3 separate regions of the Homo sapiens genome follow, and all the other regions are linked to region 1. The links come from fine-mapping of genetic effects on gene expression. A gene starts in region 1. Each other region holds a variant in brackets. All regions are shown on one strand. Distances are from middle to middle. Region 1 holds the start of NEK3 (NIMA related kinase 3). Region 2 overlaps NEK5 (NIMA related kinase 5). Region 3 overlaps SUGT1 (SGT1 assembly cochaperone of MIS12 kinetochore complex).

Region 1 (10,888 bases):
AAACCCGGCCTCTACTAAAAATACAAAAACCAGCCAGGCTTGGTGGCTGGCGCCTGTAATCCCAGCTATTTGGGAGGTTGAGGCAGGAGAATTGCTTGAACCTGGGAGGCGGAAGTTGCAGTGAGCCAAGACTGTGCTACTGCACTCCAGCCTGGGTGACAGAGCAAGACTGTCTCAAAAAATAAATTAAAAAAATAAAATCTCTGTATTTCAAAGTTAAGCTAATTTGGTTTCTGCCTCTGAGAAAAAGGAAGATGCCTCAAGCATTGTCTTTGGTGGATATGTGGGAAACTTCATTAGAAATAATCTAGTCTTCACCATTGTGTTCCTAGGTCCTAGCCCTTGTGGCTGCCATAGAGTAGCAGCTCAATAAAATTTGTTCAATAAATGACCAGCTATTCAAAAGCTTTCCAGAAACGGGAACACAAACTTCTACAAGAAACAAAAGGCATGCTGGCATTAGATTGATCATCAGCTGCACTAAAAATGGTGGAATAATAGCTTGAAAGTTCAGGGGGAAAATGATTTTCAACTTGAGACGCCTCTACCCAGTCAAATTACTTGCGAGGGCAATATAAAGACATTGTTACACATGCAAAGACTCAGAAAGCTTACCTGCCAGACACCTTTTCTTAAGGAGGAGTTATTAGAGCAGGTACTCCATCAGTAAAAGAGCAGAGTATCCTGAGGAAGCCATGGGATTCAGGCAGCTGCAGATGTGACTCAGAATGTCAGTTTTGTGGGTGACTAAGCCACCAGTTCATATCTGAGCAAGAACGGGGGATCCAGGAAACAAAGGTATTTCATGGAATATACAGTTGGAAGAACTTGAAGATATACTTCAGGCAAAGAAAAGGAAAATAAGAAAAGTACCTAGAAATTATATTTCCTAAAAGACTCTACAAGAAAATCACAATACAAATATGAGTTAAACTGAGTCATCAGTGGGCTTTCAAAAAAATATTCCAAGAAAATAGAATGGGTAAGATGGCACAGATTTCTTTCAACAACAAAAAAGTACTAGGCAAAGCAACAACAACAAAGTAACCATGATTTTGAGAAACTGAACAGCACAGGGTTGAGACATTGTGATTACACAGGAAAATCAGGCCCAGCAAACTGCTTAGCTCTGCTGTGGACCAACATTTTCATAATGTTAATGCTGCTTATTGGTTATTGTCTATTAGAACCAACTTATAGAAGACTTAGGCCGGGCGTGGTGGCTTATGCCTCTAATCACAGCACTTTGGGAGGCTGAGGCAGGCAGAGGTCAAGACCATCCTGGCCAACATGTTGAAACTCCGTCTCTATTAAAAATACAAAAATTATCTGGGCGTGGTGGTGCACGCCTGCAGTCCCAGCTACGTGGGAGGCTGAGGCAGGAGAATCACTTGCACCCCGAAGGCAGAGGTTGCAGTGAGCTGAGATGGCGCCACTGCACTCCAGCCTGGCGACAGAGCGAGACTCCATCTCAAAAAAAAAAAAAAGAAGACTTAGTTACAGAAGGGAATATAAATGTTATCAGTTGTGGAAATCTAAGAGAGTACAGCTTTGAAAAGTTTGGAGGTACAGAGGTTTGAGGCTGCAATGAGCTATGATTGCACCAGAGGTACTCCAGCCTGGGCAACAGAGGGAGGCCTCATTTCTAAAAAATAAGAAATTTGGAGGTAGAAGCAGAGGTGGGGAGTTCAAGGGAAGTAAGAGTTCTTCCTATCATGAAATGGAGAACCAAGAGGCGCTGTCTGTATTTAATAGAACTAAAAACAACAGTTTAAGGATATTAAAGTTACTAAAGTGAACAATAGGACTAAATCATAGTGTTAACTACCATGTGCACCTTAGGGGGGTGAATTAAGCTGACTTTTTATCAGTCCTTGCAAGAGTCAATAGTGTCACAAAATAGCAGCTTAATCCTATTCATACAGTTGAAGATCATCAGGAGAATTTAAAACCACAAAGGTCAAAGTGGTTGCCCTTTGGAAGTGGGACTGAAGCTGGGGAGATAAAAAGCAAGGAACAATTGCTTTTTGTTCTAGGTCTTCCTCTACTCAACTTTTTTTTTCCCCTTTGACAAAACAAAAACCAAACATAACAATCCTGGTGAGGGTCAGAGATCATCTATTTTAATGCCTGGAAATATATTCGGTGAGTCATCTTGTGGCTCTTAAACCAAACCGAAGTTAAAAAGTATAAGAAAGTCTATATAACTGTAGACTACAAAGCAGTTAATACAGAGTGAAAACTCCCAGTCATCTCAGGAGAAGTGGCGTTTTATTATTTCTGGATATATCCAGAAGCTCTCCTGGCTGGGTATCCACAGCTTGGCAACAGCTGCATAAAAAGGGGGCCAGACCTTCTCTCACCATCCCCTCTCCCTACCCTCACCAGTCTATTCTTACTGACTTACAGGTTGAATTGCATCCCCCACAAAATATACGCTGGAGTCCTAATGTGCAGTACCTCAGAATGTGATCTTATTTGGAAATAGGGTTGTTAAGGATATAATTAGTTAAGATGAGGCCACACTGGGGTAGGATGGTCCCTCAATCTGATATGACTGGTGTCCTTATACAAGGGGAAATTTAGACTCAGAGACAGTACACATAAAGGAAAGGCAATGTGGGGGAGAAGAAGGCCATCTACAAGTCAAGTACAGAAGCCTGGAACAGATCTTTTCGTTCCAGCCCTCAGAAGAAACCAACACTGTCAACACCTTTATTTTGGACCTCTAGCCTCCAGAAGTATGAGATAATAAATTTGATTAAACCATTCATTTAGCTTGTGGGACTCTGTTACAGCAGCCCTGGCAAACTAATACACCGATGGAACAAGGGAAAGAATCCCTTTCATGACTGCCATCATTGGGTGGGAAAGAAAAGCATTAAGCACCTTTGTCATCTTCTCCCCTGATGCTGTCACAAATTTAATCTGATAGAAATCTGTCTTTTGCTCAGTTCTCAAGAGCAGCATTCTGAGTACAGGCATGGGCAGTATTTTTTTTTTTTTTTTTTTAGACAGAGTTTCGCTCTATCACCCAGGCTGGAGTGCAGTGGCACGATCTTGGTTCACTGCAACCTCCGCCTCCCAGGTTCAAATGATTCTTATGCCTCAGCCTCCCGAGTAGTTGGGGTTACAGGCGCCACCCACCATGCCCAGCTAATTTTTGTATTTTTAGTAGAGACAGGGTTTCACCATGTAGGCCAGGCTGGTCACGAACTCCTGACCTCAGGTGATCTGCCTACCTCGGCCTCCCAAAGTGCTGGGATTACAGGCCTGAGCCATCGTGCCTGGCCTTCTTTGTTTTTAATTGAAACTAGTCTTTGTATAGAGTACAAAGAAAGCAGTGCAGATGTTGTAAATGTTGATTTGTAGCATTTCCCTTCTCTTATCACCACACTACAGAATAGTTGTACATTAACTTTGACATTGTGGAAGGAAGGCAATTGGAGCTGGCCAGAGCAAAGCCATTTTGTTCCTGAATGCCATTTTACAACTGCCTGACTGCAGAATGTACTTGCTGATGTTGCAGACAAAATTGCTGCCATTATGAAAAGGACTTCATGCTGAGGACTGAACTTTTCTCAAACCCCTGAATCAAGGACTTTTGCCTAGAAACCAATGAACTGTCATGATAACGCTTTATCTTCAATCAAAATAGTGGGTTACGAAGGTTATGGATGAACTAGTGAGAACTGACTTCTTACTTCCTTTAAAAACCCTACCCAAAAATAGCTGGTCAGGACACAATTCAAATGCTTCTGGAATCTGTGTTCCTTGAACTGCAATTCTCAGACTGCCAATAAACTTCTTTACTTGGATTTCGGTCTCTCTGACTCTGGTTGACACGTTATAATGAACACGTTCAGCGCTTACAAGTAAAGGGTAACCAGATGTTGTTCACAGTAATCCTATGAGGTAGGTTCTATACTTTTATACAGAGGGATTTAGTTACTCTGCTGTATTAGTTTCCTAAGGCTTCTGTAACAAACTGTGACAACCTAAGTGGCTAAAACGACACGAATTTATTACCTTACAGTTCTGAAGTTCAGAAATACAGCTCACTGGGTTAAAATCAAGGCGTCAGTGTGCATGGTGGTTTTCCTGTAGTCCCAGCCACTCAGGAGGCTGAGGTGGGCGGATCGCTTGAGCCCGGGAGCTCAAAACCAGTCTTGGCAACATAGCAAGACCCTGTTTCAAAAAACAAAAAAATCAAGGGGTCAGCTGGACTGTTACTTCTGGAAGCTCTGGGGAACAATTTGGTTTTTGTTTTTTGTTTTTCCCTCCTTTTCTAGCTTCTCCTCCTTTTCCACCTCCCACCTCCTCCTTTATATATATATATATATATATATATATATTTTTTTTTTTTTTTGGAGACAGGTTCTTGCTCTGTCACCAAAGCTGGACTGCAGTGGTGGGATCATGAGCCCTCTCCAGCTCTAGTGATCCTCCTGCCCCAATCCCCCGAGCAGCTGGGACCACAGTGCCCGTCGCTATGTCTAGTTAATTTTTCGTAGAGACGAGTGTCTCACTATGTTGCCCAGGCTGATCTCGAACTCCTGGGCTAAAGTGTTCCTCTCCTGCCTCTGCCTTCCAAAGCACTGGGATTGCAAACATGAGACACTGTGCCTGCTCCTCTTCCAGCTTCTTGAGGCCAGCTGCATTCCTTGGCTGTTGCCCCTTCCTCCACCTTCAAATAGCTTTCTCATACTGACCTTCTTTTTGGGCCCCTTCCACTTTAGAGAACCCTTGTAATTACTTTGTAATTACCCAAGCACACACTCCAAGATCGTCACCTTATTTTAAAGTCCGCTGATAAGCAACCTTAATTCCATCTGCAATCTTAACCCCCTCTGCCAAGCAAGAGAACAAACGCACAGGTTCCAGGGAGTAGGATGTGGACATCCTGAGGCGGAAGCATTATCCCGCCTTCCACAATTGCCCAAGGTCACATAGCTAGTAAGTTCTAGCTAGCACTGAGTGCTGTGCCCGTGAAATTTATCTACATAGGCTTTCACTTAACCTGCAGACAGAACTCAGTTAGTCGGGGACAATTTCCCTCAATGTTAACAGCACTGTTCCACCGCAACGTGGAACAACAGCTTTAAAACGTGCTCTTCGTAGGCCCGGCTACTCCAAGAACAGTGCCTCCCGCCAGACCCAGGCGGCTTCCTTCACCCGCAACCCGAGAGACGACCCGCCGGGCCCGCCCCGCGGAAGCCGCCGGTTGCCAGGCCAAGGAGTGGACTAGGGTCGCCGGGGAAGCGGGTGAGTGGTCCCCGCCCTGGCGGGCTGCCTCTAGAACGAGGAGGGCGGCGCGTGGTCGCGGCGCGGAGCCGAGTGGGAGCGAGGGGTAGACGCGCCCCGGACGCGCGGCCGCGCCCCTCACTTCCGCCCCGCGGTCTGGACCACTCGCCGCAAACCCGCAAGTCCCTCGCCGCCTTGGGGTCTGGGCGCGCGGTGCCGTGGGGGTCAGCAGGGCGGAGCGGCTTTTCCAGGAGAAAGGGCCCTCACGGGTGAGCGGGGCGACTGGGCTCCCCCGCGGTGCAGTTGCCCCGCGGGCGCCGGCCCCGGCTCAACGGATTCTTCTCGCTCGCTGCCCGGAAAGAACCAGTGAGAACCGCTGTTGCAGCAAAAAAAGAAGTTAATAAGCGCAGGGCTGGCCAAACCAGAACAGGGTCTCAGACCTGTCTCCCCGAGAATTCGGGGGCGAGGGTTTTAAAGGGCATTTTGGCTTCGGGGGGCTGGGGAACTGAAACAGTTGACCGGCTGGGGATGAAATCACAAGAGCTTCTGAAACTCGGGGCGGCTTCGTTGGTTCCCAGGAAGGGGTGGGGTCAGTTTCCCTTGTCTTGAAGTTTACACGAAATCCCTCTCCCAGTTATCCTAGCCTCTGTGCTAGAATAAGAAAACGACAACACGGTGAAAACTTAGCCCGTGAGGTTAGAAGCAAGATGGAGTCAGTCATGTTAGATTTCTCGCATTACTTATACATCTGTAAAGGTGGTTTCAGGGACCTTTCTGAACTTAGCCCGTATCTCACTGGTGATCCCACTTCTGGGTATTTGCAAATCACTTTATTAGGTTTTTAAAAGTATTGTTGCAGGCATGCGAAGGGGCCGATATACTTTTGCCATGTCCAGAGTGTATTCAGGTCTTGTAATGATCATATGGGTGTAATATTGAGTAACAGGCAAATGTGGGCAGAAAATATCAAATGTGGTTTTCAGCTAAGAAGTCTGGTTGCTCTTAATTTTCAGTTACTCTCCATTGCATAGAATAAAGCCCCGAAGAAACGAAGAATAAGATCATGGGGAAACTTGGCTTCCATGTTAAACCGTGTAATACCAGGTGTTAGAATAGTAGTAAAGGACTTGTTTCTTTCACATCTATATACACTCAAAAGACCTCATCGATCTTGGAAAAACATTGTTTCGAAGACAATGTGTATGACTGATTTGGTTATATGAAGAAATTATTTCTAGGATTTCCTGGTAATTCTGTGATAAACAGTAATACAAACTGGAATTTTTACAGGTCACTATAGTAGAGGTTTTAGTTTGATTTTTGCTTTGCCTGTCATGCTCTCTCTGCCTTATAATTCTTTGTGGTGTAATTAAAAAACGAACACTAGGGCCGGACGGGGTGGCTCACGCCTGTAATCCCAGCACTTTGGGAGGCCGAGGCGGGCGGATCATCTGAGGTCGGGAGTTCGAGCCCAGCCTGACCAACATGGAGAAACCGCGTCTCTACTAAAAATACAAAATTAGCCGGGCGTGGTGGCGCATGCCTGTAATCCCAGCTACTCGGGAGGCTGAGGCAGGAGAATCACTTGAACCTGGGAGGTGGAGGTTGCGGTGAGCCGAGATCGCACCATTGCACTCCAGCCTGGGCAACAGGAGCGAGACTCCGTCTCAAAATAAAAAACAAACACTGTAAGCTTTTTGAAAAATCAAGTAAATTCATTACAGTGTTTTTCCTGCAATGAAAAAGAATGCATCACTTCCCTAAGGTTTTAATAATCATAATAGCTGCCAGTTATTCAGGACCTTGTATGTACCAGGCAAAGTGTTAGGAACGTTTTATCCATTTTCTCTTATGTGCTAAGCAGTCCCGCTAGCTGCTTCATCCTGGAAATATAGATGGGAGACTGAAGTCAAGGACTCCAACTGTGTGTTTAACATCTCTCTTGACTCCCAGGAACCTCCAGTTTGGCATGTCCAAAATGAAACACATGTCTGTCTTCTATCAATATGTTTTGCCCAACCCCTGCAACACTCCCACTTCCAGAAAAATCACACAAACAAAAAACCACACACACAACCATTGTGCCTTTCCTCTCTCAGGGAGTGCCAAGAAACCATCTGGTTCATGCCAGAAACTTGGGAGTCAACCTTGCCCCCTTCTCTGCTTGCCCCCCATAAATCTGCCACCACAAATCCTGTCAACTGTTCTTACATCTTTCCTTCCCATTTTTTCTGACCCCATTGCCTCCACTCTATTCCATTTCATTATTTTCCTGCCTTTTCTATTGTTGGAGCCTCCTAACTGGCCTGTGTCTCTGAGCTGGCCTTCCTGCCCCTCCTCCACTGGTCCATTTAATCTGCAATCTGAGTGAATGTTTTTTCTAATATGCAAATATGATTATATTGCCTTCTTGGTTAAAATGCTTCAGCAGCTTGTTACATTCTTCTTTCAATTTCTTGAACTGAATGTAATTTCTTTAGCTCTTAAATATGCAATTTCCTCTTCCTTGATTACTCTTTTCCTCCTCTTTGTCTAGCCAAGTTTCATTCATCCTTCAGGCTTCAGCTTAAATAGCCTACATTTGTTGAGGTTTATGGTTATCTCTGCATGGGATGTCCACGTTGGCAGGGACTATGAGAGATTTTTCAGATTATAACATCTGACTCAGAGTTGGTGCTCAGTGTCTGCCTGTTGTATGTAGTATAGGGGAGGAAAAACATTTTTTCTCTGCCCTCTTAGGTTCAGTAGCTGGGCCCTGCAAAATAAACTGATGAAAGATAGATTAACAGGAAAAAAGGTTTATGCATAAATGTAAAGAAGTGGTTAGACCAGGGGGCTCATATGCCATTTTAACAAAGAGTGATAAATTATAGAGAAGTAACTAGACAAAAGTAGGGGAATGCTTCTTGGGTAAATTGTAGGAAGGTAAATATATGGCGGAAGCTAACATAAGATAAGGGTTATTCAGTAAAGTTTGTTATGTGGACTCAAGTTGGTGCCTTCCCCATTGGTAAGAGTTGCTCTCCTCTTCCTGGTACTGGAAAGGAAGACACATTTACAAATGGATATTTATTACCTGTACATAGGAAAATTTATGCCCTGCATTTATACAAAAAAGGGAGGGCAAAGAGCAAATTGGTTTCAGCTCAAAACAATTCTTACATGAAAGTGGCATATTTTGGGGTAGCATACACTGATCCTCTTCAAAAGGAATAATTTGCTTTTCTCTTATCATGGTTATGAGAGCTACTTTGAATTAATTTTTGCTTTTTGAAAGTACATTTAATTCTCAAATGTTTCTGCTTTTGAATGCAGTTTGGGAGAGCCCATGGTGACTGCGTGAGTGGAGCCCAGCTGTGTGGATGCCCCAGCATGGATGACTACATGGTCCTGAGAATGATTGGGGAGGGCTCCTTCGGCAGAGCTCTTTTGGTTCAGCATGAAAGCAGTAATCAGATGTTTGCCATGAAAGAAATAAGGCTTCCCAAGGTCACTACTAAAGAAATTAGCTCACTTTGAAAGTATACATGCAGTTTATATAAAAGAATAAGTTTTTGGCCAGGCACAGTGGCTCACACCTGTAATCCCAGCACTTTGGGAGGTGGAGGCGGGTAGATCACCTGAGGTCAGGAGTTTGAGACCGGCCTGAGGTCAGGAGTTTGAGGCCAGCCTGGCCAACATGGGGAAAACCCGTCTCTAGTAAAAATAATAAAAAAAAAATTAGGCAAGTGTGGTGGCCTGCACCTGTAGTCCCAGCTATTCAGGAGGCAGAGGCAGGAGAATCACCCTAACCTGGGAGGCAGAGGTTGCAGTAAGCTGAGATTGTGCCACTGCACTCCAGCCTTGGTGACAAAATAAGACTCTGTCTCAAAAAATAAATAATAAGTTTTTGAGTTTTAACATGGAATTTCTCCTTCATGCAAAAGATGTAATTGGTTTATTCGTTAGCTTTACAAGGGCTCGATACATTATATGTGGTTCTTAGGATATTGTAATTAACAATGGGAGAAAAACAGTAAAAGTTTTGGTGGTGATTACTGCTAATTTTATTTCAGCAAATAATTGGTAATAACTACCACTTTTGTATACCTAATGGTGCAGGAAATCTTTGCCAGAGCAACTCAGGTGCAATATTAATGAAAAAGGATCATAAAAATACAGTGAAGAATGAATGCTAACCTTTGGTACCAGTAAACCTACTCTGTGGATCAGTTTATAGGTTTTATTTCCTTGTAGACCATTACTATGTATCATAGTTGTCCTATGAAAGAATTCATTACATGAAGACTATGTCATAATATTTTGGATCAATTTTTTAAAAATACATTCTAATAAAGTTCTCAGAGTGCTAGGTATTTTTTTCCCACTGTATTCTTGACTTCGTTCAGTGATTTTCAAACTTGAGTGAGCATCATAATCATCTGGAGGGCTTGTTAAAACATGGACTGCTGTGCTCCACCCCCAGGCTTCCGATTGAGTAGGTCCAGGTGGGCTTGTGAATTTGCATTTTTAACAAGTTCCCAGTTGGTGCTGATGTTGCTGGTCTGAGAACCCTTGTGTTACTATACAATCAATGGCAATTTCTTTTCTTTCTTTTTTAAAATTTATAGATGGGGTCTTGCTCTATTGCCCAGGCTGGAGTGTAGTGGCACAATCGTAGCTCACTGCAGCTCAAACTCCTGGGCTCAAGCGATCTTCCCACCTCACCCTCCCCAGTGGCTGGGACTATACTACATCTATAGTCTACATCTATAGTCCCAGCCACTGGGGAGGGTAGCCACCACACCCAACTAACAATGGCAATTTCTTGATTGTAAGATGAATCATTCAGAATTTCATCCTCATAGAGTAAGTTAGGGATAAATGGTTTTGGAAACTTACTTTGCTTGCCATCTTTGTTCATCCTTGATGCAGTAATATACCAGCATACTCTTTTTTTATCTGGACCAGTGGACTCCTCTAAGTGATGCAGACAGTCAAAACATGAAATCCCTCACTCCCTTTTTTTTTTCTTTTAGGATAAAACATTTCTTTTTCTTTTTTTCTACATCACAAGTCATCAAGCAAAAGATACATTATTTTTGATGGTAAACTGGCTCTCTAAGTCAGGTGATACTTAGGCTGATATTAAAACTATTTACATTCTGTATGTGTAAGGAATGAAAAAAGAAAATAAAAATACAATGAAGGGGTCAGCTCAAGCATGAAAATATAGCCAGAGTTGAAAAATCAACATGCATTTTCTCTTGTCATTTGACAAACTTAAGTTGAGCCACAGTGTGTTATAAAACTGCATCTAGCATTAAAGTGTCATATAAACCATGTTATTGTAAAGTTATGTATTTTAAAATGCAGTATTAAGTTTATGCTTATTTAAAATGTTTTTCTAGTCTTTCTCTAATACACAGAATTCTAGGAAGGAGGCTGTTCTTTTAGCCAAAATGAAACACCCTAATATTGTTGCCTTCAAAGAATCATTTGAAGGTAAATACGAATTCCCCCAGATATGTGCATTTCTGAATTTGATTTATAGCCACTACAGCTTTTCTAAAGAGCTTATATCTGTTTTAGCTGAAGGACACTTGTATATTGTGATGGAATACTGTGATGGAGGGGATCTAATGCAAAAGATTAAACAGCAGAA
Region 2 (10,888 bases), 54 kb after region 1:
ACTGATCTTTTCTTGAAGTACCTCAAACAACATGACATTTTCTCCATTTATAGAACATTTTTCTTAGCAAGAACGGAATGGTGGCAAAGCTTGGGGACTTTGGTATAGCAAGAGTCCTGAATAAGTAAGTACTTTGAAAATAATTTTTCTTTCTAGTCAAAATAGCCCAAATATGTATTTTTAGATATCATGGATTAAGAAGATATTAAAATCTTGGTTGTCTAAATAATTTTAGGTAGCTTTATGTAAATGCATTACATCAGATGGTACTTTGAGATTAAAATTCTCAAGATAAATTGTGGTGTAATAGAATGATGTTGCTAATATTCTGTAGTGTGATTCCAGTTTCTCAAATATGGATGTGACTGTAATATGCATAAAGCTAGAGAGAATTTCGTGAAATAGGCAGGTTTACACTTCTTAATGAAAAAAGTCAAACTCTATAAAATATTTGAAGAGATTTATTCTGAGCCAAATACGAGTGACCAAAGGTCCATGCCTGTGACATAGCCCTCAGGAGATCCTAAGAACATGTACCCAAGGTGGCCGGTCTACAACCTGGTTTTGTACATTTTAGGGAGATGCAAGACATCAATTAGATGTACATGGGTTTGGTCCAGAAAAGCAGGACAACTCAAAGCTGGGAAGAATGGGAGGGAGCTTCCAGGTCATAGGTAGATTAAAAACTTTTCTGATTGGCAATTGATTGAAAGAGTCTATCTGAAGACCTGGAATTAGTGGAAGGGAGTGTCTGGGTTAAGATAAGGGGTTGTGGAAATGAAGGTTTTTATTATGCAGATGAAATCTCCAAGTAGCAGGCCTCAGAGAGAATAGATTGTAAATATTTCCTCTTATCGGATTTAAAAAGGTGCCAGACTCTTAGTTAACTTTTTCCTGGATCAGGAAAAAGCCTTGGAAAAAGAAGGGAATTTTCTTCAGAATGTAGATTTTCCCCACAAGAGATACCTTTGCAGGACTATTTCAAGATATGGACAAAGAAACATGATTTGGGGTAAAATATTTTGATTCCTTTCAGGCCTGCTATCTGTCATGTGATGTTATACTAGAGTCAGGCTGGACTTTGGTATCTTATTGCTACAAGGAGTCTGCTTTGTCAGTCTTAAGGTCTGTTTTAATGTTAATGCTGGTCAACTGTGCCTGAATTCCAAAGGGGAGGAGGAGTTAATGAGGCATATCAGACCCTGCTTCCCATCATGGCCTGAACTAGTTTTTCAGGTTAACTTTGGAATGTCCTTGGCCAAAGGGAGGGTTTATGAGTTGGTTGGGGGGCTTAGAATTTTATTTTTGGTTTACACACTTTCTAGCAAAATAAATTTGTGCACCTGTTTGGAAGACAATTTGGTGGCAATATGTACCAAGAGATTTTTAAATATCCTGTTTCTGGGACTTCTTCCAAGGGAATAATTTGAAATTTGGAATAACGTAAATGCCTAAATAATTGGGAAATGGTTAAATTTAATAAAGCTTGGCATGGCCATGGCCATGTACCTGAATATATCATAAACATTTATGGTTTTGAAGACTTCTTGATAACTTTGTTATACTAAGCAAAGAAAATGGAATTCTGAATTTTAAATACATTGTGATCACGGTTATATGAAAAATATGTGTGGAAAGAAGACAGGAAGGAAATATATCAGAATTTTAACAATAGTTGTTTTAGGTGCTAAGATTCTGGGTAACTTTTTTCTCCCTTATTCATTTTTGTATTTTCCAAGTTTTAAATCATGAGGTTGCAATTTGATAATCTCTACATCTGAGAGATTTTTATAACATGACAATTTCATCTCTTTGTGGAGTCTTTAAGCCATAAAAAATATATTTTAATGTGTAAATTTTTGGGAGGTGAATTGTAAGTTTAAAAATCAGCTGATTTAGTTACTTTATCAACATACAGTGTTTTGCTTTCTTCTAACACATGTATGCATCAAATCTTGTGTTATCCATTTTCACATTTTTTCTTGCATGTCCATGTCTTAAGACTTTTCTTACTCCAATAAAAAATCATGCTGATTTATTATTTAATATAATTTACTAGTTCCATGGAACTTGCTCGAACTTGTATTGGAACACCTTACTACCTGTCCCCAGAGATCTGTCAGAATAAACCCTACAACAATAAAACGTAAGTTGCTGACTCTTAGTTTGAAAGTGTCAGTAAAATCTGATGGATGACACTGAATGAAGATTCCAGAAACTAAAATTCAAATCTCTTCTTTCTTTCTTATGGTACTTTTGTAATTTCATTTGCTTCATGTGTGAAATTGTTCTGGACCAAACTGAGGGTTGGGTTGCTATTTCTCGCGGTCCAATACGAGATGCAGATGAACTGGGGAGGAAGAGAGTTTTTATTTCTGTAACCAGTACAGGGAGAAGGCCTGGAAATTATCACCAGACCGACTCAAAATTACAAAGTTTTTCAGAGCTTATACACCTTCTAAGCTATATGTCTATGTGTAAGTGTGCATTCATTTAAAGACATACTGATTAACTCCTTTTAATCTATAACTAAGGTCTGAGTCCTGAAGACTTTCTTCTGGAGCCTCAGTAAGCTTACTTAATCTAAATGGGTCTAGGTCCTGGGGTGATTACCCTTATTTTGTCTCCTGCTAAATCATGGAGGTTTAGGGAGTTCCTGCAGACCTCCAATAAACTTGTTTGTGGAGGCCTGGGGAGTTTCTTCAGACCACCAATAAAACTTGTTTAATCTTAAAAGGCTCCTTGTTAAGAATTCCTTCATTATTTTGTCATGGTTTAAGGCCCAGGAAAGGCCTAGGCAAAACTCTTGGTGGGCTTTTGTTACATTACAGCCTTTGTATAAGGGCACTGGCTTTTTTTTTTTTATTTTTTGAGATAGAGTCTTGCTCTTGTCACCCAGGCTAGAGTGCAATGGCACGATCTCGGCTCACTGCAACCTCCACCTCCCAGGTTCAAGCGATTCTCCTGCCTCAGCCTCCTGAGTATCTGGGATTACAGGTGGCTGCCACCATGCCCAGCTAAAGTTTTGTGTTTTTAGTAGAGATGGAGTTTCACCATGTTGTCCAGGCTGGTCTCAAACTCCTGACCTCACGATCTGCCTGCCTCAGCCTCCCAAAGTGTTGAGATTACAGGTGTGAGCCACTGTGCCTGGCTGGGCACTGGCTTTTTTAGCTTTTAATATTTAACTTCACCACTCAGTATAGAAACAGTTGTGATGGAGGCCTGCATTGGTAAGACCTGGCCTGCCACAAAATGGGGATCCCAGTGACTATCTCTGAGCAGTGTTACCTGAAGGTTTCAAACTTGTTTAGAAGAAAGCCATTTCTCTTCATTTAAAGATACAAGTGGTATAAAAAATAACATCGAAAATTGCAGTCACTGTGATGTCCATTTTTGTATTATATGTTCATATCTTTGAAGCACTGTTTAGTCTATTGCAAGAAAGATTGAAGAGGATGAAGTAGAAGACAATGTGGTCTGGTGACCGCTCACTGGATTAGGAGCTAGGAATCCTAGTCTTGGCTCAGTTGCTAACTTGACCAAGTCAGTTGACCTCTGTGGGCTTCAGTTCCCTAACTCATAATAATGAGAGTATTGACTAGGTAATCTTCAAGGTGTCTTCCAGCTTTAAAACCCAGTTAGTTTTTATGTATGTGATATCAGAGTCTGGTTCTCAGCAATAATTTTTTTTTTTTTTGAGATGGAGTCTGGCTCTGTCATCCAGGCTGGAGTGCAGTGGTGTGATCTCGGCTCACTGCAATCTCTGCCTCCCAGGTTCAAGCAATTCTCGTGCCTCAGTCTCCCAAGTACCTGGGACTGCAAGCACGCCCCACCATGCCCAGCTAATATTTTGTATTTTTAGTAGAGATGGGGTTTCACCATGTTGGTCGGGCTGGTCTTGAATTCTTGACCTCAGGTGATCTGCCCGCCTCAGCCTCTCAAAGTGCTGGGATTGCAGGTGTGAGCCACCGCACCTGGCCCTCAGCAGTAATGCTAATGTATACTGCAAGAAAAGGTGAAGAGGAGCTTTTGCTTCCTATAAGGAGAAGGAAAAAAATTTCATTTTTCAAAGCTGGCTGCCATTGAACAAGTTGGCGATAAGGAAGATTGAGTTCCCTTTGGAAGTTAATTGTCCTTTTGTTTAGGAAAAAATGCCCAAGAGATACTTGGCTATTGGACTTTGAAGGAGATAAATGGAAGGCAAAGCTCAGACAATAGAGATTTACAAAAAGAATAGTAAGAATTTCTCTGCATAATAAAATAACAGGGATTTTTTTTTTTTTTGAGACATCCCCTGGCACCAAGGAGTTTGGCCTCAAGTTAGTTGTGCAGGAATTCAGGTAGGGTGTGTTGGACGGAAAGTAGGCTGTTCAGAGCAGGGCATGCCACAGACAGCCTTGGGTCAGCTGCATTGTTTTGTTTGCTTGTACTGCTTTTCAAGAATTTGAATCAACATTTAAATGCTGCTGGATATGGTGGCTCATGCCTATAATCCCAGCACTTTGGGAGGCTGAGGGGGATGATTGCTTGAGTCCAGGGGTTCAAGACCAACCTGGACAACATTGTGAGACCCTGTCACTACATCCAAAAAAAAATTAAATATTGAAAGACTTTAAAATATGCATAGTTTGTACCTCTGAAAATTGGAAGATCTTAGCAATAATCAGGTGGGTAGCC[G/A]CTGGCTCCATTAGAGGACTGGTTCACCACAGTCCTCAATATGCAGAGTGGTCTCAGGCCTGCAACTGGCCCCACCCAACCCCCAGGTGGCTGCAGTACTGCCTGAGCCCTGGGGGCATATGAATTCTCTGCCCTGGCTGCAGAGGGTCCTCTGGGAACAGAAGAGAAGTTTGGGTCTGTGGAAGCCCTAGTAAAGACAAAAGTCTGTGTGGTGTGAAATGGTCAGTGAGTTTCTAGAAGGTCTAGAAAGTTCATGTTTGTTTCCTGGGTCAGGTGCAGGCGGCTCACACCTGTAATCCCAGCACTTTGGGAGGCCAAGAAGGGAGTATTGCTTGAGCTCAAGAGTTTGAGACCAGCCTGAGCAACATGGTGAAACCTTGTTAATGAAAAAAAAAATTATTAAAAAAAATCCCACAAATTTGTTTCCCACCAATCTTACCGTCTATTGTACTTACTACCATCTTTTGTACTCAAACTTTTAGTATGAGTCTATCTCTCTCTCCTTCTCTCTGACACACACACACACACACACACACACACACACACACTCATGCACAAAGCATTGCTGCTAGAGGAGCCATTTACCTCACTCCTCACTTTAATGATTCCTTCTTGCTTTGACTCCTTGACTTCTGATTAGACATTTTTTGATCTTTTAGATTTAATTGTGCTTTTTGTTCTATAAAATAACTCCTCAAACCAATCACATATAAATATTTATGAAGTACTAAATCTGTAAGGAGCAAAGCTCATGATATATATTTTAAGTATATTTTTAAATGTTTATTGAGAATCAGATACTATGTTTATCACATAATATAACTTTGGTTCTGTCAAAAGCCTTGAGTAGGATATATCTTTCAAAATCAACCAAATATTACCTTTTGAGTCAAAACAAATCCATGTTTGAGTTCTGCCTGCCTCCTCCAAATTGCTCAACATTTCATCATACATACATTGTTTTTGAGCAGGAAGCTGAACTAAATATTAAGCCACCAGGTTGTAGCAAAGTTTGTGTGCCTTTCTTTGACTAGAAATCTGACAAACTACAAATGGTTTTCATTTTACCTCTTATCTTCTAATAAGAATTGATGATATATCTGAAAGCATTTGTAAAAGCTGATCAACTTACATAAAATTGTAAAGCGACACAAATTTAAGGCACTGTAAGGATAAAAGCTTTTATTAAGAATTATGGATATTTTCTTGGCATGTAAACTCTTATCTTCTTTAGGGATATTTGGTCTCTTGGCTGTGTCTTATATGAGCTCTGCACACTTAAACATCCTGTAAGTATGCTCATTGTCAGACTAATCTTGAATTATTGGAATTGTAGAAAAGAAATTAACTTCTGGGAGAAAAAGGTTAATGTTTGGTTTTATTAGATTGTTAAAAATTATATGGATAAGCTACTTAAAATAATGATAGATGACATGGAAAGCTGTCCAAGCAATATTATAAAGTAAAAAGTCCAAGTTGGAGAATAGTATGTGTAGCATATTTCCATTAAAAATAAATTGTGTGGGCTTGGCGTGGTGGCTCATGCCTGTAATCCCAGCACTTTGGGAGGCTGAGGCGGGTGGATCACTTGAGGTCAGGAGTTGGAGACCAACCTGGCCAACATGATGGTGACACCCCGTCTCTACTAAAAATACAAAAATTAGCCAGGCATGGTGGCATGTGCCTGCAGTCCCAGCTAGTTGGGAGGCTGAGGCACGAGAATTGCTAGAACCCAGGAGGCAGAGGCTGCAGTCAGCTGAGATTGCGCCACTGCACTCCAGCCTGGGTGACAGCGAGACTCCATCTAAAAAAAATAATTAATTAATTAATTACTGTATGAATAGATACGTTCAGCAAAAGAAAAATGTACATGGGCAAAGTTCATAGGAAACCAGGCACAAGCTTTTAAGAGTCTTTTCCCAGAGGTCACATGGGATGTGCCAAATCCTCCAGCATTGTTACCCACGTCACCTGTGAAATGTGATCTATAAGAAAGCTCATCGGATATACCCAGTGCCCAGGATTTTTACTGGGGACTGGTCACATAGGCACCCTCTACCTGGCATATGCCAAACTTCCAGACTCCTGGAAAGAAAGCCCGTGTTCAGCATAAACCATTTTGTTCACATAAATAGCTGAGGCAAAGATAGCCACTCTTGACATTCAGGGAATGGTGGGAATTCTTCTGAAATCTTAGTTCCCAGACACCAGCCACGGGCCAACATTGTAAGCAGGCCTTTCTGAGGAGAGCTTGCTACATCAACTCTTTTCTCCACAGCTGTCATCATTGTTATTAATTATTGTCAAGGGTTGCACAGCCAGTGTCTGACCAAAATGTGTACTCCATTGTTTTTTTGAGATGGAGTCCCGCTCTGTTGCCCAGACTGGAGTGCGGTGGCACGATCTCAGCTCACTGCAACCTCTGACTCCTGGGTACAAGCAATTCTCTTGCCTCAGCCTCCCGAGGAGCTGGGATTACAGGCACCCACCACCACACCCGGCTAATTTTTTTGTATTTTTAGTAGAGTCAGGGTTTTGCCATGTTGGCCAGGTTGGTCTTGAACTCCTGACCTTGGGTGATCTGCCCACCTTGGCCTCCCAGAGTGCTGGGATTACAGGCGTGAGCCACCATGCCCGGCCAATGTGTACCTTTATTGCTACACCATGGAGTTGAATATTATTATGTATAAATAACTATTGGTTTCATACAATAGAAGATTTCTGGTCTATGAAGCATTTTAGAGGAAATTAAACGATGTTTATGTTAATTTTAAAAAGCAAGAGATAAAATTTCATATCAATATGACCTCAACTTTGTAAAATAAACATCATTTTTAAAAGAGATCAGAAGGAGCTATACCTCTGAGTGGTAAAATTATACATATTTTCCCCTGTCTTTATAACTTCCTATACCTTCCAGTTTTTTTATTATGAGTAAACATTATTTTGATAATAAGACAGAATTAAAACAAAATAAAAACTTGTTTTAAATAACATGGCATCTTGTTGAATAACTGCAGTATCTGCTCATGAAAGATTAGTTGATGAAAACAATTTAAGGTGGACCACAGTGCTTCTTTTTTATTTTTTGATTGAGACAGGGTCTCACTCTGTCACCCAGGCTGGAGTGCAGTGACGCAATCACGGCTTACTGCAGCTTTGACCGCCTGGGCTTAGACAATCCTCTTGCCTCAGCCTCCCAAGTAGCTGGGACCACAGGCTCATGCCACCAAGCCCAGCAAATGTTTAAAAACCATGATTTGGAGAGATGAGGTCTAACTATGTTTCCCAGGCTGGTCTTGAACTCCTGGGCTCAAGTGATCCTCCTGCCTTGGCCTCCCAAATTGCTGGGATTACAGGTGACCCTAGTGCTTCTAACTACAATTTAAAAACATTGTTTTGCTTCTTGGTATATTTGTTACTTTAACACTTTTATTATTTGTTACTTTAGTAACTTTTCTCTGATTTAGTGTCATTTCTCCTTGTCCTTTCAGTTTGAGGGTAACAACTTACAGCAGCTGGTTCTGAAGATTTGTCAAGCACATTTTGCCCCAATATCTCCGGGGTTTTCTCGTGAGCTCCATTCCTTGATATCTCAGCTCTTTCAAGTATCTCCTCGAGACCGACCATCCATAAATTCCATTTTGAAAAGGCCCTTTTTAGAGAATCTTATTCCCAAATATTTGACTCCTGAGGTAAGTTTTGAGGTGACTGTTTGGATTTTGGCAGAGATTTTGGGTTGCAGGTCCTTGACACGTGTGTTCGGTTTTAGGTCATTCAGGAAGAATTCAGTCACATGCTTATATGCAGAGCAGGAGCGCCAGCTTCTCGACATGCTGGGAAGGTGGTCCAGAGTAAGTGTGACTTTGGCATGCAATCAAAAGTATTTATTACACATGTCTCACACAGAGAGTAATGCAAGGAAATTTCACCAAACATATTGAAAGTGGACATTTTAAAAAATACAAGCAGTATAAGCAGGAGAAAAATCATCTTGTCAAATGGCAACTAGTGAGTGTGCCTGAAAGTTGTATATCTAGCTCATGCATGACCTGCAGGGTTCCTTCTCGTTAGTCAGGAAACCTCCATGAAGCAGAGGACATGCTAATAGAGATGCTTGAAGAGGTTGAGCCCAAACTTAACTTTTGTGTAGTGAAGGGACAGAGTGGGAGAAGGTTGCAGATAGACATGGATGATGAGATGAAACTTATTTTTCTAAAAGAGGATAGACTGGCAATTAAGAATTCTGTTGCAAAGGACCATTGGAGCTGAAGTTAGGATCTTGGGGCCTAATTGATAACAGTAAGAACTGTTACTTTGTGGTTCCCAAAGAAGGCAGGAGATATTTTATGGTAGTAATAAATACAGAAAACTTTTTTTTTTTTCCGAGACGGAGTCTCGCTCTGTCGCCCAGGCTGGAGTGCAATGGCGCGATCTCTGCTCACTGCAAACTCCACCTCCCGGGTTCATGCCATTCTCCTGCCTCAGCCTCCCGAGTAGCTGGGACTACAGCCGCCCATCACCACTCCCGGCTAATTTTTTGTATTTTTTTAGTAGAGACGAGGTTTCACTGTGTTAGCTAGGATGGTCTCGATCTCCGGACCTCGTGATCCGCCCGCCTCTGCCTCCCAAAGTGCTGGGATTACAGGCGTGAGCCACCGCGCCAGGCCGGAGAAAACTATTTTAGTCCTGGTGTCAAGAATCAGCTAAGCTGTGTGTCAGAGGGAGGGGTACGTTAAGAAAGAGAAAATTACTAATTCATTTGATGCTGTGAAAGTCAAAGCCCCAGAATTTAGCTGTAACTGAATGCCTGGACTTACAATATCAGGAGGAGCAGAAAGCCTCTCAAAGGAATCCATGACAGGGAAATGTTATCCATTGAGACAGAGATTCTAAAATCAAGGAAAGTTAAAGAGAAAGTGAATGAGCCTCTTTGCCATTTAATTTGACTAACATTGTTGTATACCAGTCTAGATTGAGAATGTTTAGAAAATAGACAAGTACAGAGTATGGGACTGTGTATTGTCCATATTTCTAATCTAGGTAAGATAGGAGAACAAGAACAATTTTTTTTTTATTGAGATGGGGTCTCACTGTGTTGCCCAGGCTGGTCTCGAACTCCTGAGCTCAAACAATCCTCCTACCTTGGCCTCCCAAATTGCTGGGATTACAGGTGCGAGCCACCTTACTCAGCCCAAGAACAAATTTTGATGGAGATAAAGACAAGCATTAGAAGATCTACTCATACCTCAGTCCTGGCACTTTGGGAGGCCAAGGAGGGCAGGTCACCGGAGGCCAGGAGTTTGATGCCAGTCTGGCCAACATGGCCAAACCATGTCTTTACTAAAAATACAAAAATTAGCTGGACCTGGTGGCCCATGCCTGTAATCCCAGCTCCTTGGGTGGCTGAGGCACAAGAATCGCATGAACTCGGGAGGTGAAGGTTGCAGTGAGCTCAGACCCTGCCACTGCACCGTAGCCCGGGTGACAGAGTGAGACTGTCTCAACAAAAAAAAAAGAGAGAAGATCTACTCATAAATTCCAAACAATGTGGCATGAATGGAGTGGCCTGATAACCCAAGCTCTAATGACCAAATTTAATAACTTTTATTATTACCCCATACATATTGTTTCTGTAAATGTTAATATTAATTTCTATTTTTCTGAAAAAAAGTGATGTTATATATTACTAGAAATATGCAAAGGGACTCTGAAAAAATGGTTTTTTTCATTTAAAGAAATTGCATATTAATTTTTCATCAGTACTCTCACTGTGTGTAAAATATCTCTGGCTAAAAAGTAAACTTACTGTGTTATGAAATGTAGCTTATGTTTATACTCTTACAAGTATCAGTATTAATGGTGTACAATTTTTAAAAAATTGAAGCTGTTTTATTTTGGTTAATTAAGAGTGTAAAATACAAAAAGTGAGATTCCAGGGAAAGTGCCCACCAAGATCAAGGATATCTGTGCCAATTAAAAGGAATGCTATATTGCATAGAAATGAATGGAGACCACCAGCTGGAGCCCAGAAGGCCAGATCTGTAAGTCATTCTAAACCCTCCTTTGTGTTTTTTAGCTATGGTATATGCTTTTTGTTTGTTTGTTTGTTTGTTTTGAGACGGAGTCTCGCTCTGTCGCCAGGCTGGAGTGCAGTGGCGCGATCTCGGCTCACCGCAAACTCCACCTCCCGGGTTCAAGCAATTCTTCT
Region 3 (10,888 bases), 540 kb before region 1:
GGCTGACAGTGTTGCTTGGCAGATACAGCTGAGGAGGAATAGCTTATTTATGTATAATGACATAAAGTCTCTCAGGAACAAGGACTGTCTTTAGAAATTGAAATATTAGATCAAGAGGATGAGCAGGTATTTTATATTTTTGACATTTCAGTTTTGCATCCCACCGTTTGATAGATAAACAACTTTCCTAAGGAAAATAGAAGTTTTCCAAAACACAGATTCTGAGACGACAGAAAGGTCTTGATGCCATGATCTCACTACACTCTCATATTCAGAATATACCTTATTATTGTGTATTCCACAGTAAATCCCTAATACTGGTGTTTTCCAATTAAAGTCTATAAAAATGATACAGAATTTTAAAAACCTGGTTTTCAGGTGAACACTCAGATCCCTCCATTTAATGAAATACACAGCAAGCCTAGGTCTCTGGAGAAAAGAGACGAAGGAAAGGCACCGTAATGACATGTAATGGTCACACTGTTCTCAGGAAGCAGCTACTTCCTGCAGTTATGAATTCCACGTTTAGTCTTTAAAACTGCTGTTACTCTATTAACGAAAGAAATATGCGTCAATGGTTCTGCATATCATCTCCCACCCCCATGGCTCAGCAACCTGTACTGGGTTCTAAAAATAAAGAGAATGATTTAGTGATCCCAGCCCAGAAGAGCATATGGTCTTATGAGAGATACAGATAATCAAGGCACACCAGACAAAGCCTTGATAAAGATGGAAGCAATGGGCTTCTTGGAGAATGTCTACTCTCTAGATTTTCAAGGATGAGCAGGAATTAGCCAAGTGAAGGTGACAGAAGATTTGCATTCCAGGCAGAGGGAGTTTGAGTAAGACCAGAGGTGTGAAGTGAAGCTGCATGGTACAAGCAGGAAAACAGCATTCAGGTCGGGGTAGGAAATATCAAGATGAAAATGTAGGCAGAAGCTTTAAGTGGCATGTTAATCTGGGGAGTGTGTGTGTGTGTGTGTGTGTGTCTGTGTGTGTGTAGGAAATAGGAAATGAAAAGTTGCAGGCAAGGAGGGAGCTGGTTAAGTTTTCACCTTAGATGAATCCCCCTTGGTAGCTTCCCATGTGAAAACTGAGCAGGTGCCATACAGGCCAAAGAGGCATCTTAATAAGGACAGCAGGTCATAAGGGAAGGCTGACTTTTGAAAAGATGCTCCCTTTCAAAGCTTCATAATTAGATGAAAATATAGGAGGTGCGTAATTTACTTCTAACAGGCCAAGGGATTATGTTGTGTTATGAAACGTCACTAAATACCCAAGGACATCAATTTAACAGAAAAAATCAGGATGATTTAATAACAGAGGAAAAATTCAAGGTTGGATTAAGGATAGGAATGACAAAGGAGACTTAAATTGTATTCAAGGATGAAAATAAGGGTCTACTTTGAAAGAGAAGTGGACAGATGAGCATTCAATAAAGGAAGAGAGGGCAACAGGGAAGAATTACAAATTTCTTCACAACTTGGTACTACTAATTTCTCAAATTACTTTTAACCAGGCCAGTCTAAAAGTTGCAAATACAGCCCAGTTTGCTGTGCTGAATCTTGACTGAAATGTTAGTATGTGTGTATAGACTTATGTGTATTATTGGTACTTCATTAGATACTCATTTAATTCTCAGTAGTGGTACAAACCAATCCTGATGGAACATCTCAAGTTAGATTTCAAGGTCCTAGTTTGACTCGGAATGGAAGGAAATATGTGACAGCTGCCATTTAGTCAGCACATGGAAAATGTTTTCATTTTCTGGCTGCAAAAACTTGTGTGTTTTTACACCTCCCCTTCCACCAGCACCTCAAATAACTGTGACACTAAAAAAGTAGATATAATACTAAGAATAACCACTTAACCCACTCAACAGTTTCTTACATCAGATTTTATTATACTGAAATACAAGCTACATTTTTACAAAATAGAAATTCTTTGTGAGTGGATTGACTTAATTTTATTTCTGTATAAGCTAAATATGTTGATCTGTTTTATGAACATGTATTTTATAAAAATGGTCACAATATATTTTTTAAGTTAACTGATTTATTGAGGGAGGAGGAGAGAGTTGACCAAAGTCTACATGCATAGACAGTCCTAAAAGCGTATCTCAAACATGAAGATGTAAATTTGAGAGTTAATGATACAAATTTCAGCAAAAACATTTTACAGGCAGAGAGTGTTTTGGTGTTTATAAAAGCTGAACTCCTTTTGAAGGGCTTTTGTACAAATACACATGCTCATATACTATATGCATATATAGGTGTACTTCATTTTGAGAAAGTCCAGTATAATACTAGCATCAAATTTACAAAACAGGTTTAGTGTTGACTGACTGAAGAACTCACTACAGGTTTTACTTCAACTGCTTACATTCAAAAGTATTCAATTTACAAATTTTAGGTACTTACTGTGTAAGGTAAGTACATCTATACATAAATACTTTTATGCAGGTATAATATAAACATAGCAAATAGCTGAGGCTATTTTCTAAGGTGTTTGGCTTAGTGAACCTTTTTTACATCTTTATAGTTTTAAAGTCAAATACATAGCAGTCTTTATTTGGGTGTATGTTATCACAGAGGAATAAAAATCAGTAATGGGACTGGGAACAGTATACCCACTAAGTTAAATTAAGTCATTGGTTAAAACACCAAATTATTCAAAACCATTTAAGAGATATGCCCCACTAAATTCCCTCTGAATTTAGTCATTTACAGATGTTGTGTTTCGTATTCCTGTTCTCACCTTTGTGCCTGCTCCTTTGCAAACATTCTTTTCACACCAAATTCTTAGAACTGAATCAGAACTGCAGAAAATCCAACACCTTTTCTCTCCTCTGCACATGGCTACAAAAATTCTAATAGTAACAAGATAGTGTGAAAGACATACCTCTATATACTTTTTACTAGCATTGCATTTGCAAACTTACTTGAAATTACTTTTTTAAAAAAACAGGATTTCTATGGCGTCCTGTCCTTCAGGGTTCCTTCTAAGGTATGAATTGCTAAGAATTTTCTTTTCAGCTGCCTATATTTCATCAGCCTTGATAATTAATCATCTTTTATACTAAATTTGCCATATACTGACAAAGTCAAAGACCTGTAATAAACTAGACAAGCAAAAACTTTCTCTTAGCGGGACTAATGCTGTTAAAGGCAAATGGTTTCCTTTCCATTAAAACCATATTCCTGCCTGTTAAGTTACTGAGGTAACTCCAAAAAATTAAGCAGTAAAAAAGATCTCCATGGGATGTGCCCTAACACAAATTCTACTCGGCCTACTCAACCAGCACCGTAATTTTTAACATTCACTTAGCACCTATGGGTAATTAAACAGGCATCATCGGAGAATATTCCAGTTGCTAAATGGTACCCCATTATTAATTAGTACTATGCCATGGCTCTCTCTGAGTATTTCTCTGCTCAGTTCTAGTAATATCTTAGCAGTGATAAAAGTGTTTTGCCCAAATAGTTATTCTCATTTTGTTTCACTTTGATTGAAACAAACATTTGATTTTCTTTCATCATGTGCTGTCATACGGTGATATGGATTCAATAACTTAATCATAATGACCCCCCAAGATTAAGAAGAAAAAAAGCATCATTCAGCATCTCTCCTCTACCTTTTAATTTCTGTGTTAAGAGGGAAACAAAACCTTCAAAGGAGCAAGCCAAGTAGCTTTTCCTCTTCTCTAAACTTTACTGGAAATAAGGCATTAGAGGTGATTAGTGCTAATCTCACTTCTGTTCTCTCCTTTACTCCTTGACATCACTGTGTTCTACATGCAGTCCTCCAGGTCACCTGCTTCAAAACCATCAGTTCATTCAAAACAAAGATTTACTGGACCCTCTCTCAAAGGTACTGATTCAAAATCTCAGGAGGAAAGTAATGAAGGTCTACATTTTTAAAAATAAGCTTCCCAAGTGAAGGTTACTCACCAATAAGCTTAAGAACCACTACCCTATATATCATACAAAATAGCTGCCCAATGTTATAATTTTAGTTGTCCGATATCAGAATGTCAGCAGAGGATTAGGGCAAATCAGCTAAGCATGGTGGCTCACGCCTGTAATCCCAGCACTTTGGGAAGCCAAGGCAAGAGGATTACTTGAGGCCAGGAGTTAAGAGAGCAGCCCGGGCAACACAGCAAGACCCTGTCTCTACAAAAAAAATTTAAAAATTAGCTTAGTGCACTAGTAGTGCAGTCCCAGCTACCTGAGAGGCTGAGGCAGGAGGATCACTTGACTCCAGGAGTTGGAGGTTACAGTGAGCTATTGTGTGCCTGGACAGCAGAGCAAAACCCTGTCTCTTAAAAAAAAAAAAAAAAAAAAGATTAGGATAAATAAGTTTTAAGAGAGAGTCTATCACCAACGATCTGAGTGAGTTACATTAAAAACCTGTATGAAGAAAAAAGTATATGAGATGACAGCACTCTGGAAAAAGTGCATCTGTAAAACCAAACGTTTGGACTACATAGTATTTAAGATCCATTCCAGCTCCAAAATCCTGACTTCGTTTTTGTCTCCTCATACTGACAGTGGATGAAATGCAAATACATGTTTGCATTCCAGGGAATAAGAGGTTCCAAAGCTACCTCTAGTCTTGTCAGATGGCCCATAAAAACATGCTCTGTTGATCTGATTTTAACAACTCTAAAATAAAATCCTATGCTACACATATTCCTAAGTCCCTGTTCACAACCGGTCATTCTCCAATCTTGCCTTGGTACTTATTCTGCTGTAACTGTACTTATATTCCAGAACAAGAAATAGCTTTGCTAAACAA[A/C]GATTAGACTAACATATGCTATTACCTATAGTTTAATGTGTTAAGGAATAAACGGCAGACATAAGTTGAGTATTCAGGCTGAGGGCTTCTTTCCACCACCACAAGCTAAGCTCCATGAAGGCAGGGAATTTTGTTTACCTAGTACCTAGCACCTAGCTCAGTGTCTGATGCGTATTTGGCAATCAATGAATATTTGCTAAGTGCATAAATGAATGAGTGGATGTCATGAACCAAGTTCTTTTTCAGATACCTATATTATTCTACTACATACCTTAAAGTAAAGGCTCACTCAAAGAAAAAGTGTATGGCTTTTGACTGCAAAGACTTGAAGGGCCTCAACGGTGTTGATACTGTTTAAAAATAAAGTATACAACCCTCATCAAAGAGGGTTTTCTAGTACTCAGTATCTCAAAATTTCTTCAGGGATTCCAGAAAAAAAATGGACACGTGAGCAATTCAAACTTTTGTCTCCAAGAAGATTGGTATGCTTATAAATTGACTCACTCTTTGTTTCCATATTGCTACATATGCTCAAACCTAATTCCACTCCTGGCTTTTAAGATCTGGCCTCTCCTGTACTCTCCCCAAGACATTTGGGCTCATAATTTTGTATGAATGGAGGGCTAACCTAGTTAGAAAGTAAACTTCAGTCCGTTCAATTAAAACACAAAACAAAACAAAACAAAAAACAGCCGGGCACAGTGGCTTACGCCTATAATCCCAACACTTTGGGAGGCCAAGGTGGGAGGACTGCTTGAACCCAGGAGTTTGAGAGACCAACCTGGGCAATGCAGGGAGACCCCATCTCTACACAAAATTTAAAAATTAGCTGGGAGTGGTGGCACACACCTGTAGTCCCAGCTACTCAGGAGGCTGAGGAAGGAGGATTGCTTGAGCCCAGAAGACGGAGGCTGCAGTGAGCTGCGACCATGCCATTACATTCCAGCCTGGGCAAGAGCAAGACCTTATCTAAAAAAATAAAAAATAAAAATAAATAAATAAAATAAATAAAATAAATCAGGACACCCCTCCAAAAAATGGTATCTCAAAATTAAATAGCAAAAAAAAAAAAAAAAAAAAGTACTTGGATATCACACTGGTTTTGATTAGTTATATAACTGTTACTACCTCTAACAATGTAGTTAAAATTAGCTCTCGTGGCTGTGGGTTAAAAACCTACTTAAAAATTAAAATCCTGTCAGAAACGGTGGTGCACGCCTAGTCTCAGCTACTCAGGAGGCTGAAGTGAGAAGATCACTCGAGCCCTGGACTTTGAGGCTGTAACACACAATTATCACGCCTGTGAACAGCCACTGCACTCCAGCCTGAGCACCACAGCAAGACCTCATCTTTTTGAAAACAAATTACTATTCTATTTACATTGACAAATAAATGATCAACTTTAAGGGCTTGACATTTTTAAAAAACCCCAATTTTAAACACTATGGTTTGGGATGAGTAACTTCCAATATTTGAGTACATACTATGTGAAAGGCACTACGCTATGTATCAAAGATCCAAAGCTTAAGTAAATAACACTAACTGACCAAGACACACAAGGTAAAACAGACACAGCCGCAACTAACCCTATAACATGTGACACCATGAAGGTGTCATAAATAGAGGCATAAACAAGGCACTCCCACATCACAACTAGAGTGGCAATGCATTTCAGTAGAGGGCATGGAGAGGGGAGTTCCACAAGAGTACTGACATTTTAATTGAGATCTCATAGAATGAATGGAAGAAAATAAGGGCATTCTGTGCAGTGATAAGACCATGAGCAAATCCATCCAATTCTGGGAGCCTGTTCTCTATGTACCAGGTGCTACACATACAAAGATGGAAGCTAGACCGCGCCCTCAAGAAACTCAGTCACACGGGGGAAGAAATGAACCAACTGTAATGTACTGGTCTGACAAACAAGGAATAGATTAGCACTCTCAAGCATGCTCATGACATGTTGTGGTTTTGGTATGACTCCATCAAAGGATCCAGTGATGTCTCAACCATAAGCAAATAACCCAATCCAATGCCACAAAAGTCAGTAACAGAGTTGCAAAAGATTAGACTGCTTTCCTGGAGGTAGCATACAAACTCAGTTTTGACACATCAGTAGGAAACTGGAGATGCCCAGGAGGGGCAGAAAAAGGAATGAAAATACACGACATATTCAGAAACAGCAGATGTCTGAACACTAAAAACAAAGAATATGCAATAGACTGTAAGTGCCCTTTGCAGAAAAAGTTTGACCATGACTAGAAGATTCTTGTGTGTCTGGGAGCTTTAGTACACAGCAAAGCAGTGACAAGAGATGTGGCCAAAAATTTTGGCTGGGGTTGAATTCTGAAAACTCTTGAATAGCAGGTAAATGCCAGACTCACCCTCCTTTGAAGAATTTCAACACTAAACAGGACTGAGGGGAAAAAATAAATCAAGGACTTTACATTTAAGTAGCATTTATTGGTAACATAATTTGAGTCAGGACTTAGTTATTAAATCCTCACAATCCTGAGGGTTAATTATCATCCAGTGTTATAAAAAAGAAAAAAGTTCAGATAAGTCACTTGCCCTCAAAACACACAATTATGAAAGTATCAGAACTGGGATTTTAAGAGTCTAGATTCATAAGTTACTACTCCTTCCATTACAAAACAACACCTGTCTCTGTGGTGAAGTATAATTTTTTAAAGTCAATTGTTTTGAAATAGCAAAATAATAACAATAATAAAGGAAATGCACTCAATTTCTTAAGCATGTTTCATCCCCCACTGGATATATATCCTCAGCCTAAGCTCATTACTTATGAATGTGTTCACTTTCAGTCACTTCAAGCCACAGAAAAAGTTTAGAAAACAGATAATCAGTAAAAAGTGGTAGTTGTGAGAACTCCCAGCTGACAGTGAGCCCATATTAATGTCTACACACTTGTATATGCTCCACACTGATTCATTTGGGGCAAGAATAATAAGATTGATGAATTAACTCATAAAAACATCTACCAGCAGGCTGGGCATGGTGGCTCACGCCTGTAATCCCAGCACTTTGGGAGGCCGAGGCGGGCGGGTCACAAGATCAGGAGATGAGACCATCCTGGCTAACACGGTGAAACTCTTGTCTCTACTAAAAATACAAAAAATTAGCCGGGCATGGTGGCGGACGCCTGTAGTCCCAGCTACTTGGGAGGCTGAGGCATGAGAATGGCGTGAACCGGGAGGCGGAGCTTGCAGTGAGCCAAAATGGCGCCACTGCACTCCAGCCTGGGCGACAGAGCAAGACTCCGTCTCAAAAACAAAAACAAAAACAAACACAAACAAATATCAGCTTCTTTTCACTGATGGGAATAACAAGACAATCTGTGGTTTATAAACTGCGTGATTTTGTACCTTGTATTTTTCACAAATCCTAATAGTTTTACCTTCTGTTTTGAGCTTTGAAATTGAAATGAAAACCAGAGAACTTCCGAAAGTTCCTTAACATTCTACATCTAGTTTATATTTTCTGCCACTATTTTATTTTACGATTCTTTATAAAGTGCTGACAATACTTACATAATTAAGCTCTGTTTAAGTAAAATTATTAAAAACTTTTCATGAATTCTTATGCTCTCCAAAGTACAAATTTTATAAATTACAGTAACAATTGTTAACTAGGTGATATACTTTCCTCAGACAGAATTCCACATCTTGAAAGACTGAACTTACAACACAAAAAAATCTTCTCTAGGATTTCCACCTTCCAGCCTAGGATCATCTGATGTTATCTGTCACATGAAGCACTGCTCTTTGCACTTCACACACATAGATACACAATTCCAAAACCCTCAGATGAGTTTTTGAAGTCAGAATTTTGGATTTTAGAAGATAATGCAATACAGATAGACTATTAATAGTTCCCCTTTATCCATGGTTTTGCTTTCCACAATTTCAGTGACCCACAGTCAACTGCTGTCCAAAAATAACTGTTCACATAAGTTTTATTGCGGTATATTGTATATTCTATTATTAATATCTTACTGTGCCTAATTTATAAACTTTATCATAAGTATACATGTATAAAAAATGTACATACAGCATTCAGTACTGGGGGTCTTGGAATGTATCTGCCACAGTTAAGGGGCAACTGCTGTATTTTGTAACAATTTCAGCAGGATCAGTGCTAGCATTCTATAATTAAACATTTAATATTTCTGCTGCAAAATGTGACTATTCATATTATAAATTCAGGTCACGTTTTATATCACTTGTCATACAGATGCACATGCACACACACACACACACACAAAACATTAGTATTTTGAGCCTTCTGGATTAAGATACCTGTGGAGTTACATGAATTCATTCAACTAAGACCATGAGGCATGAGGGGGATCCTATTATCTCCTTTACATAGACACAAAAACTGAGGCACAGAGACATTAAGCACCTATATCCATTGTCACACAGCTAGTAAGCAATGTAGCCAGGATGATCCCAAACAGGATGGCTTCAGAGTCCATGCATTTAACCACTATGCAATACTGTCTTTTCATGTACTTAACAAAAGCTCTAAATATATATTAATAGTATGCGCAATTGTTTATTATTTAGATCTTCTGTGGCTGCATTATAGGGTACAGTTTTTTAAAAAACCCTATATAGGTATTAAGGACCATTTTCCTAACTCCTTCTAAAGAAACTGAAAATTACCTTTAGGTAAATAGCAGTGTTTCTGAAACATCTTTTTGTATAACTGAATCCTTTAATCATAGGAAAAAATAAAGTCAATGATATAGGTAGAAGTCTCAATGTAAAAATAAAACTAAAAATCCAAATGTGAAGGCATACCAAATATTTAAGACTCCAGACAAGCCAAAATTCAAATATATATATATATACAAAATGCTAACATAAGTTAGGAAAAAGGAAATAACCTGAAATATTCAAATTTTATTGGAGAAATCAGTGATACACAAATCCTAACATGTCTGTAGGAATAAAACCTTGAAACAATCTCAGCATTTGTACAACGGAACTGGTATGAGAGCTCCCAAGTTAAAGGAAAAAAAGAATTTCATTGGCATCATGTACCAGTCTTCTTACACATGCAACAGTTGTTAAAAGTACACTGTTTCTCTGTAATGATCTAGATTTGAGAAAAACAGCACCCTCTCAAAAATCAGACTACTTCTTTGCATTACTTCCAGTATGAGGCAAAAGATTTGGATTCCTAATAAGCTTTCCTACTTAAGAAAGTGAGGATCTCTAGGAATTTATCTTCCCAGCTCCTATATAAGAATTAGTTCTTGGCTGGGCACAGTGGCTCACGCCTATAATCCCAGCATTTTGGGAGGCCAAGGTGGGCGGATCATGAGGTCAGGAGTTCAAGACCAGCCTGACCAACATGGTGAAACCTCGTCTCTACTAAAAATACAAAAATTAGCTGGGCATGGCGGCCCATGCCTGTAATCCCAGCTACTCAGGAGGCTGAGGCAGAAGAATTACTTGAACCTGGGAGGTGGAGGTTGCAGTGAGCCAAGATTGCACCACTGCATTCCTTCCCTGAACGACAGAGTGAGACTGTCTCAAAAAAAAAAAAAAAAAGAATTAGTTCTTTAACTTGAATATTCTCTGCTTCATTTCCAGTCAGCTGATTTGGTAATAAAAATCATTCATTCCACATCTAGCTTATTAACCTGATGAGAGGATTGCAGTTGTCAGAAGTATGGGTAATGGAGTCTGATAGGCCTGGGTTCAAATCCCAGCTATTGCAATTACTTACTAGTAGAGTGACCTGGGCAAAGAACTTTACTTTGGCCCCATCATCTTTCTGATTTGCAATAATGGGATGCTATTGAAGGGCGATTAAAAATGAGATAATGCCACCCAATCCATAAGAAATGCTAGTACACAGTAACTACCACTATTTGCAGTAATGAGTCAGCATTCATTGTATATGATTTTAGCTGATTTGGAGGAGCAACTTTACTAAGGTAGGAAGTGAGGCTAAGAGTTAAATTAATCTCAGAAACCAATCACAAGGATGGCTCCAAATAGTAACATTTGTAGGTAAATCAATATTTTCCCCACAAGTTCCCAAAATAAAATCTCTT

Evidence for each region. PIP is the estimated chance that this variant, and not a neighbour inherited with it, causes the effect.
Region 2: its variant is the best candidate, but not a certain one, in a credible set for the expression of NEK3 in whole blood (TOPMed, PIP 0.62).
Region 3: its variant is the best candidate, but not a certain one, in a credible set for the expression of NEK3 in whole blood (TOPMed, PIP 0.67).

What each region holds. Positions count from the first base shown.
Region 1 is chr13:52,153,920-52,164,807 of GRCh38, reverse strand. NEK3 (NIMA related kinase 3) reads left to right here and starts at 5,211. Exons shown (of 16, transcript NM_002498.3): 1 at 5,211-5,265; 2 at 8,560-8,733; 3 at 10,635-10,728; 4 at 10,816-10,888. The coding sequence starts at 8,617. It overlaps LOC124903176 (a long non-coding RNA gene), which reads right to left and starts at 10,639. Exons shown (of 2, transcript XR_007063806.1): 1 at 10,010-10,639; 2 at 7,462-9,946. RefSeq lists silencers at 3,220-3,514, 5,275-5,334, 5,415-5,524.
Region 2 is chr13:52,099,576-52,110,463 of GRCh38, reverse strand. It overlaps NEK5 (NIMA related kinase 5), which reads left to right. Exons shown (of 24, transcript NM_001365552.1): 7 at 54-124; 8 at 2,060-2,146; 9 at 5,912-5,966; 10 at 8,172-8,372; 11 at 8,450-8,531; 12 at 10,588-10,721. Among named protein-coding and RNA genes, the nearest start is that of NEK5, 24 kb to the left of the region's middle. RefSeq lists an enhancer at 5,497-5,791. The variant G/A (reference allele first, on the strand shown) is at 4,678.
Region 3 is chr13:52,691,904-52,702,791 of GRCh38, reverse strand. It overlaps SUGT1 (SGT1 assembly cochaperone of MIS12 kinetochore complex), which reads right to left. Exons shown (of 13, transcript NM_006704.5): 13 at 1,883-10,888. Among named protein-coding and RNA genes, the nearest start is that of CNMD, 42 kb to the left of the region's middle. The variant A/C (reference allele first, on the strand shown) is at 4,798.